Linked DNA regions of Homo sapiens: all the other regions are linked to region 2. The links come from fine-mapping of genetic effects on gene expression. A gene starts in region 2. Each other region holds a variant in brackets. All regions are shown on one strand. Distances are between the middles of the regions.

Region 1 (2,757 bases), 58 kb before region 2:
AGTTAAAAAATAAAGAAAGCAGAAGGAATGAATTCAAAAGAGGGACTGGTAAAAAAAGAAAACAAAATGTAAGAAATGATAACTAAGACCAGAAAAGCATCTTTTAAAAACCTCCTGGAGTGTTAGGGGTGAGAGAGGATGCGATTTAAATACCATCAGACTCAGGAAAAGAGAGGAGATTTCACCAGGTTTTCACAAGCCTAAGATCCAGGAGTGCAGAGGCAAATACGACAGTTCAGAAGGTCTAAATTCACTAAATCGATCATTTAGTGAATGGCTTTTGGTCCTTCATTTAAAAAGAACTTGGTTGAATTTGGAATACATAAAAGAAACTAAGAGATGTATTAAGAGTAGACTGAACGGTGACCACCCCCACAAAATGTCATGTCCATGTCCTAACCCCCAAAACCCATGCATTGTGACCCTGTTGGGAAAAGGGGGTCTTTGCAGATGTGACTAAATTAAGGATTTGCAGAGGAAATCATCCTGGATTGGGTGGGTCCTAAATGCAATGGCAAGTCCTAAGAAGGGAAGAAGAGAAAGGAAGGGAAAGGAAGAGAAGAGAAGGGGTGGGTGGGAAACAGACACAGCAACACAGGAAAGAAGGCCGTGTAAAGACCCACATGAAGATGAAGGCAGGCATTCACGTTAAGCTGCCACAACCCAAGGAATACCAGAAACCACTAGAAACTGGAAACAGCAAAGAAGAATCCTCCTCTAGACCCTAGAGTGTCTGGAGGAAGCCTGGCCCCACCCACACCTTGATGCCTGACTATGGCCTCAAGAACTGTAAGAGAATACACTTCCATTGTCTTAAGCCACCCAGCGTGTGATAATGTATTACTGCAGCCCTAGGAAATTAATACAGGCACCTGAGCCATTAATGAAGTAATTGTGAAAAGCCATCCTTTGCCTGTGGTTACCACATGTGACCTGCAGTCTCATGGGAAACAGGTATCATCCACATGGCCAGAAGCAGAAGCTTTCAGATTGAAGAGACCTAGGCTGAATCCAGATTCTGACAATTACTCACAGTGTGGCCTTGGACATGTTTCTTGACCTCTCTGTACCTCAAGGTCATCTCTAAAAAGGTGAGCAGCAAAAAACAGTCCCTACCTCATACTGTTGTTGGGAATGAATGGGATCACCTCTGGAAAAGTGCAAGGTGAGGGGCAGACACATGGTGAGATTCATTCCCTACCACTAAGCGTGGGCTGAGCTCCAGCTCAGCCAACCACAATGTGAGCCTGGGGATTGGAGGACGAGGAAGGGAAAAGCTCACTGCAAGGGAACCAGCATCTAGCCCCTCGAACCTGTTATTCTCGGTACATTTCTTGTCAATAATTAAAA[T/C]AACTCCACTGCCTTGATAGCCACACTTCTATTTATAACACTTAAAATTATCAGCTTCATTCCACTCTCACACCTAGACACTTACTCATTCATTCTCACAGGAGGAGTTTAATTTCAGCAAATGTGTTTTTGAGAGATTTTGATGTCCTGGAGCTATGAAACTATAATGTAATTCATTTACTTTCTGAAAAACATGAAGGCAATGATTTTTCTCTTTTTTTCTGGCCTTGTTGAGGCATACTTAAGAAATTAAAATTGTATATATTTGAAGTATACGACATAATGACTTAATACACATATATATTGTAAAGTGATTACCAAGTCAAGGTAATTAACAAGACCATCACATCACAGTTACCACGTGTGTGTGTGTGTGTGTGTGTGTGTGGTGAGAACATGCCAAGATCTACCCTCTTAGCACATTTCAAGTAAACAATACAGTATTACTAATGGTGGTCCCCATGTTGTACCTTCAATCCCAGAACTTATTCATCTTAAAACTGAAAATTTGATCCACGTCTCCACCTTTCCCCACCCCTCAGAACCACTGTTCTGCTTTCTGCTTCTGTGAGTTTGATTTTTTTAGACTCTACCTATAAGTGAGAATGCAATATTTGTCTTTCTGTTTCTGGCTTATTTCATTTAGCATAATGTCCTCCAGGTTCATCCATGTGGTCACAAAGGGGAGGATTTCCTCATTTTTTTGTGGTTGAAAAATATTCCAATGTATATAGATACCACATTTTCTTTATCCATTCACCTGTCAATGAGCATTTAGGTTGGTTCTATACCTTGTCTACTGTAAATAATGCCGCAGTGAACACAGGGATACAGATAAGCAACATGGAAGTTCCTCAAAAAACAATTTTAGGACCGTGATTTTTCAATTTCAACACTACATGACATAAGTAACAAAAGGAGAGTTGTTAGGGTCCTAAAGATACCTACCTCCAGATGTTTTATCTTCATTAGCTAAGTAATAGTCAACATGCATTCAAATGTTTGCTTAGTGCCATACGATGTGACAAGAAGATGATACGTAAGGCCTAAGCAACTCGTTATTTTTGGAAACATGACCTCTTTCAACCTAGTTCTTGTATCCAGACTCTCACAACAGCTTCTCCATCTCTGAGAGCTAAAATACCTGCCGGGTGGATAAGCAGTCATACCCAGGCCAGCCAGCAGCTCTCCTAAATTTGGAGGGAGAAATCCATTCAGGAGTGCGATGATAGAGTCAGGCTTGCAACTTCCTAAATTTCAGGGATACCTGCATTTCAAGGGAATTTCATGATCATTAATTTAAAAAAAAAACTGGTTCTTCCTTATAGGCCTTAAAAACATGTAAAATGTCCCTAAGTCAATGATTTGAGAACAAGAAGATTAAAAATGAAACAGTGAATTGAATTG
Region 2 (2,757 bases):
TGCCCTACCCTGCAATACAGGTTTGGGGATTTTCTACCCGTACACACAGTCCTACCAAATTGCCTACTGGAAATGTTGATGTTAATAGGTTTCACAGAGCTTTAACGGACTTGTAAAAGCCCCAGATATTATTTTCTGCCAAATTCTCCTGAAAACCCCAAATTCACGGGCGGCTGCTGGCTACATCCCATCGTCCCATCCCTCGCACCGCCCCCACGCTTTCTGGCGGCTTCCCGGTGCCCTGCTCACGCCCCGGCTGCCAGCCCCAAGCGTGCGCCCCGTGGAGCGTCCGGCAGGAAGGGCGGCCCTGCCAGCGCCACGTACAATGCCCCCTCGAATGCCTCCGACTGTTCCAACACTGCTCCTAAGCTTAGAGAGGGCTGGTCGCAGGCCGAGGGGAGGCAGCTGCCCTCCTCGTCCTCTGGCTGCTTTGTCACAGCCCTCAAGGGCGTAGGAAGAGAAGGAGAAAGTGCCCCACCACCTGGCACGGGGCCCACCATCACCTGCCTCCCACACCGCACACCCTTTACACACACAGGGTCCAGCCGGACGTGGAGCGTGGACCACCTGGACATTGAACACCTCGCCGGGGACGCTCGGAGCCGGCTCCTCCGCGCTGCCAAGGCGGGCACCGCTCAAGTGGTTCTTGGCTCGGCCCGGCCTGGAGGGGCGCGCCACTCAGTGGCCAACCGGAGCGTCTAGAGCCCCGCGCGAGAAGTGCCGAGCCCCGGAGCGGCACACCCCGAGAGCCCGGCTGGCCCCGCCCGGGAACCAGGGCGGGTAAGGGAATCAGGGTCGGCCCGGGGGTCCGCGTCCACGCGGGCCAAGAGACTGGATCCATCTTCTTCCCAAAGTGGGAAAGCCTGTGTCAGGCGTGCCCATTGTCGGGCAGCAGCAGCAGGGCCGGCGGGAAGAGGCTGCTGGTCCCGGACCAGCGCCCCGCACCGCGCCCGCCGCTTCCACTCACCTGGCAGTTGGCGCCGGAGATCCCGGCGGGGCAGGTGCAGCTGTAGCCAGGCTCGCCGGCGGGGGCCGGGTGCTGCGGGTCCGGCTCAGGGCGCGAGGTGCACACACCCCCATTCCGGCAGGGCTGCGCGGCGCACGGCCCGGGCGCAGACAGGGGCGCGGCGGGCACCGGGTTGGCCAGGGAGCTGCCTCGGGGCCCCGCTCCGAGCAGCAGCAGCAGCAGGGCCAGCGCGGGCAGCAGCTGCGCACCGGGCGCCTGGGCGCGGCGGGGCTGCATGGCCGGCCGGGAGGGCGCGGGAGCCGGAGCCAGGACGCAGTGACGGCGGCGGCGGTGGCAGTGGCGACGAGAGCTGCGAGAGCGACGGTGGCGGCTAGGGCTGCTCCGCCGGGCCGGGCGCCTCCTGCAGCTGCGGGATCCGCGGTTCCCCGGGCAACGGCGGGCGGGGCCTGCGGGGCGGGGCGGGGCGGGGCGAGCGGGGGGCGGGGCGCCTGGCGGCCCCGGCTCTGGAGCATCGGGGAGTGGGGCCTCTTTCCCCGCAGGGAGTTGGGATGGGGGTTGCAGGAAGACGATGCGGGACCCCATCCCCCAGGAGTGGGTCGAAGTCACGGGTGTGTCCAGAAGCAGCCCTGGTACAGGGAGCCAGGCGACGCTGGGGCAGGAAAGGGGCTGGAGAGGTCCACGAGTGAGGGAAGCGGGGCTTTGAGGGGCTTCCAGAGCCGGGAGCACCGAGTGCGCCCCAAGGCCCGGGCAGGGCAGGGCGCGGGAGGCGGCAGGGCGCCTCAAGGGAGGGGCGGCGCGCTCGCAGCAGCCACCTTTGGCCTCTTGGCGCAGAATCTGCGAGACCGCCGCGGGGCCCGGCCTTGCCTCATCCCCCGGGACTGCTCCCCTTCCCACAGCGCTTCTCCCGGCACCCCAAGCCCTCCCGCCCGGCCACGGAACCCTGCGCCCGACGCTTGCTCAGCAGCCGGGTTCGCCTGGAAGTGACCTCGCCTCCGCCAGGCGGACCCGGGGCCCTTGTCCTTGGTGCTGACCCAGCTGTCTCATTCTCGCCGGCCCTTTCCAGAGCGCGGGGCCTTGCCGCACCACTAAGGAACGTCTGGCCGCGCCGTGTGAGGCCGGGAAGAGGCCTTGGTGTAAGGCTGTCCACCCCTGTCGTTGAACCTAGGGGGAAACTGAGGCCCAGAAAGTCTGGATTCGAATCCAGTGGGTCAATTGACTCCCAGCCCAGAACGCCCGAAAGAACAGTTCAAAAGCCCAGGTTGGCAGAGGCGCTGCTAGCGGCAGGAATCGCAACAGGGGACTCTGCATAAAAGGAGCATTCGCTGTGACCTACTTCGGAGGGGATGGGGGGGGCGGGCTCTTCTACACGTCCTGGCTGGGCTGGCTGGTGCTGCGACCGCCAAGGAGGCTGCACTCCGCTGAATAAAGCGCATCCAGCCTTGTCTCCTCCACCTGACCTTTCACAATCTCTATTACCTGTGGGTTCCCAGGTACCTGTTACCTTCTTTTTAAGGTGGCCAAATGAAAAAAGAAAATGTGATTCCCCTGGATTGACAGTCTGGGCCAATTTTTTTTTTAGTAAACACAAAAATAGCTTGTTTTGTTTTTTAAAAAAATTAAAGTAAGGACTCCATGTGAACTTCTGCTGTAGGTGTCACAGACGCCAGGGATTGCTAAAAGTCCTCCAGTGGAAACAGAAGGCAAACTGCACGGCTTCTCCCTGTCCTGTTCAAACGCAGAAGCAAATGTCACACTTTTCTGCTTCAGGAGATACCTAAAATTCATGTGGC
Region 3 (2,757 bases), 270 kb before region 2:
TTCACATTCACAGACTTGTCATGTTCACCTCTTAAAATGTAAGTTCTTGCCTGGTGTTAAGATGCCTTTTTTATTTTACACAGTCACCTAACAATCTGAAGAAACATCCCCTCTGAAGGCAGTTTCAGCTCCCAGGTTCAACAAGAGGGCCCTGTCACGATTACAAGGCTCTGCTTTGAGACTGCTGAACAAATGAAGGGATCATGTTCATTCCACGAACAGAATGCACACGTCTTCAGGCTTTTCAAGGCTATTAAGGGGCTACTGCTGGACCACAGACAATTATCAAGTCAAACGCTCCAAGTGGGCATGAATGTTTTAGCAGAGAATAGACGGAAGGAAAGTGGAAATTAAACAGGAGTGATTTCACCCCCACATAGCTCGAGAATCCTGCTGGAATCTCCACGGACAGAAAGAAAGAAGAGCTTTCACTAGTCCATGCCAGGAAATGGGCTGCCTGCCTCTCATTTCATGCTCTGACATATAACTCTCCTCTCTTTTCTGATAGAGGGGAAAACTGAGTCCCAGAGATGCCTGTAAATTTCCTATGGTTTTAGTCAATAAGCGAGGATGTTAGAGAGGTCCTTTCTACCACTCTCGGCTGCCTCTCCCAATGTGGAAAGAGAAACATCAGGCAGTATATTTTCTATTTGGTTGCCTCACACGTGTTGAAAAACTCTATTTGGTATTATTAAAAAACACTATTTATCTCTAACTCCCTTCAATTTTAAGTTTTAGAAATCAACTAACTATAAGAAAAAGTTTGGGTCAGGCATGGTGGCTCAGGCCTGTAATCCCAGCACTGTGGGAGGCCGAGGCAGGCAGATAACCTGAGGTCAGGAGTTCAAGACCGGCCTGGACAACATGGTGCAACCCTGTCTCTAGTAAACATACAAAAATTAGCAGGGTGTGGTGGTGGGAGCCTGTAATCCCAACTACTTGGGAGACTGAGGCAGGAGAATCGCTTGAACCCGGGAGGCAGAGGTTGAAGCCTGGGCAACAAGAGCAAAACTCCATCTCAAAAAAATTTTAAAAAAGAAAAAGTTTGATATAATTAAGAAAAGAAGTCAGAGGAGAAAGGGAGGAGAAAATAAAGTTGTTTTCTGGTCTTACAATATTTAATTCTTCTTTGTGGGGCTTCACAGAGAGAACGGAACTCTCAGGAGACAGGTAATAAAGTATTAAGGAAGTTTTTGTTCAGAATGCTGCTGAGGGGTATTTTCACATGTGTTACGACATCCAGAGCAGAGCTG[G/C]GAACAGCGTGCTCGTGAGTCAGTACGTGAGTAAGCCTCTGTTCTTCCAGCACAATTGCAGCTTGTTTAGTTTGCAAACACAAGTTGTCTCAGTGATCCACATTCCCAATAGGTAAGGGCCAGCGCCACACTGCCTCCTCCCACAGGACACGCAGCTCACAGCATGTGAGCCCGAATCCACATGGAAGAAAACTGGACCCTCTGAGGGGCAGCTATTCCTGTCTCCACCCTGGCTCTGAAGGAGAGCATGGAGGTCAACCAAGAAAAATATCCTCATGTCAAACACAGTGGAGAAACTGTTTCACTTCAAGGTTTATGAGATCCAAAAATGTTACTGCGATAGTTCATTTCGGGTGTCAACTTGGCTAGGCCATGGTTCTTAGATACTCGCTCAAACACTAATCTAGATGTTGGTATGAAGGTGTGTTTTAGATGAGATTAACGTTTAAATCAGCAGACTTTGAATGAAGCAGATGACTCTCCAGAATGTGCGTGGGCTGCATCCAAACAGCTGAGGACCTTAAGGACAAAGACTGAGGTTTCCCAAAGAAGAAATAATTCAGCTCAAGACACAACACAGAAACCTCGCCTGAGTTTCCAGCCTGCCAGCTTCCCTACGGATTTTGGACTTGTGAGTCCACACAATTGCATGAGCCAGTTACTTAAAATAAATCTCTCTCTCTCTCCTCGCTCTCTGTCTCCTGTTTCTCCGGAGAATCCTAACTACTAACATTGTTACAAAGCAGATTAAACAGCCCTATTCCCTCTGAATGTCAGAGCAGAGAGGAAAGAGGCACTTGGCAAAATATCAGTTGCTTAGAAAATCGGGGAATTAAGAGTCTATGTGAAAAAAGGCTTTTCAACACCATTCAAGTGCCAAATTGCATTTCTCAGTAACTTGTTGAGTTATTCGTTGAGTATGAGACATGCCCTTTGGAAGTTCCAGGCCAGGCACTGGAGCAGCAAAACCAGGGACACCGGCATTCGAATCTGGGCTCAGCCCCCATTCTGGGTGTGTAGCCACAGGCACATGACTGAACCTCTAGAGGCATTTCAAACCTTGGTGTAAATGTGACACTAAAAAGACCAGAGATGTGAAGCACCCGGCTCAGAATCTAGAAAGATCAGTGCTCACTAAATAGTGGCTTAGGGTGATTGCTGCTGATACAAAAGCTATTAATAAAACACAGTTCCTCCCAGCCCTAAGGAGGAGAGAGACACATACAAGGATAATTAATGTTCTGTTTCCAAGACCACAAAAGTGATATTGTAGGTGACTGTCGGAACCCAGAGGAAGGGAAACTGAGTCAGCCCCAGAAGTAGAAGTTTGTACAGTGAGGTGGGGTAACGGGGAGCACGCATTCCAGCTAGAGGCCATTGCACCAGCAAAGCCAGGGTCAAGCCAAACCAGATACTGGCCAGCCATACTGACTGGCCAGGGAGATGTGTGGGGATTCATTGTGCTGGGAAGCTTTCTAAAGAGCCAGCTCGTGTAAGGATGGAG

Which allele goes with the higher level. Alleles are on the strand shown, and positions count from the first base shown. SD is a standard deviation of normalised expression in the study named.
For the expression in atrial appendage of the gene that starts at base 1,375 in region 2, allele T in region 1 goes with a higher level than allele C (moderate effect, 0.43 SD a copy in GTEx).
In carriers of allele C in region 3, the expression in sun-exposed skin of the gene that starts at base 1,375 in region 2 tends to be lower than with G alone (small effect, 0.31 SD a copy in GTEx).

The links. PIP is the estimated chance that this variant, and not a neighbour inherited with it, causes the effect.
Region 1: its variant is fine-mapped to the expression of DNER in atrial appendage (GTEx, PIP 0.97).
Region 3: its variant is fine-mapped to the expression of DNER in sun-exposed skin (GTEx, PIP above 0.99). The same link has a PIP of 0.9 or more in aorta, fibroblasts, tibial nerve and unexposed skin.

Annotation. Positions count from the first base shown.
Region 1 is chr2:229,655,275-229,658,031 of GRCh38, forward strand. The region is part of intron 1 of DNER (delta/notch like EGF repeat containing); the gene reads right to left. Among named protein-coding and RNA genes, the nearest start is that of DNER, 58 kb to the right of the region's middle. The variant T/C (reference allele first, on the strand shown) is at 1,351.
Region 2 is chr2:229,713,181-229,715,937 of GRCh38, forward strand. DNER (delta/notch like EGF repeat containing) reads right to left here and starts at 1,375. Exons shown (of 13, transcript NM_139072.4): 1 at 968-1,375. The coding sequence starts at 1,243. RefSeq lists silencers at 1,206-1,315, 1,386-1,445 and enhancers at 1,283-2,057, 2,058-2,757.
Region 3 is chr2:229,443,841-229,446,597 of GRCh38, forward strand. The region is part of intron 8 of DNER (delta/notch like EGF repeat containing); the gene reads right to left. Among named protein-coding and RNA genes, the nearest start is that of PID1, 170 kb to the left of the region's middle. The variant G/C (reference allele first, on the strand shown) is at 1,254.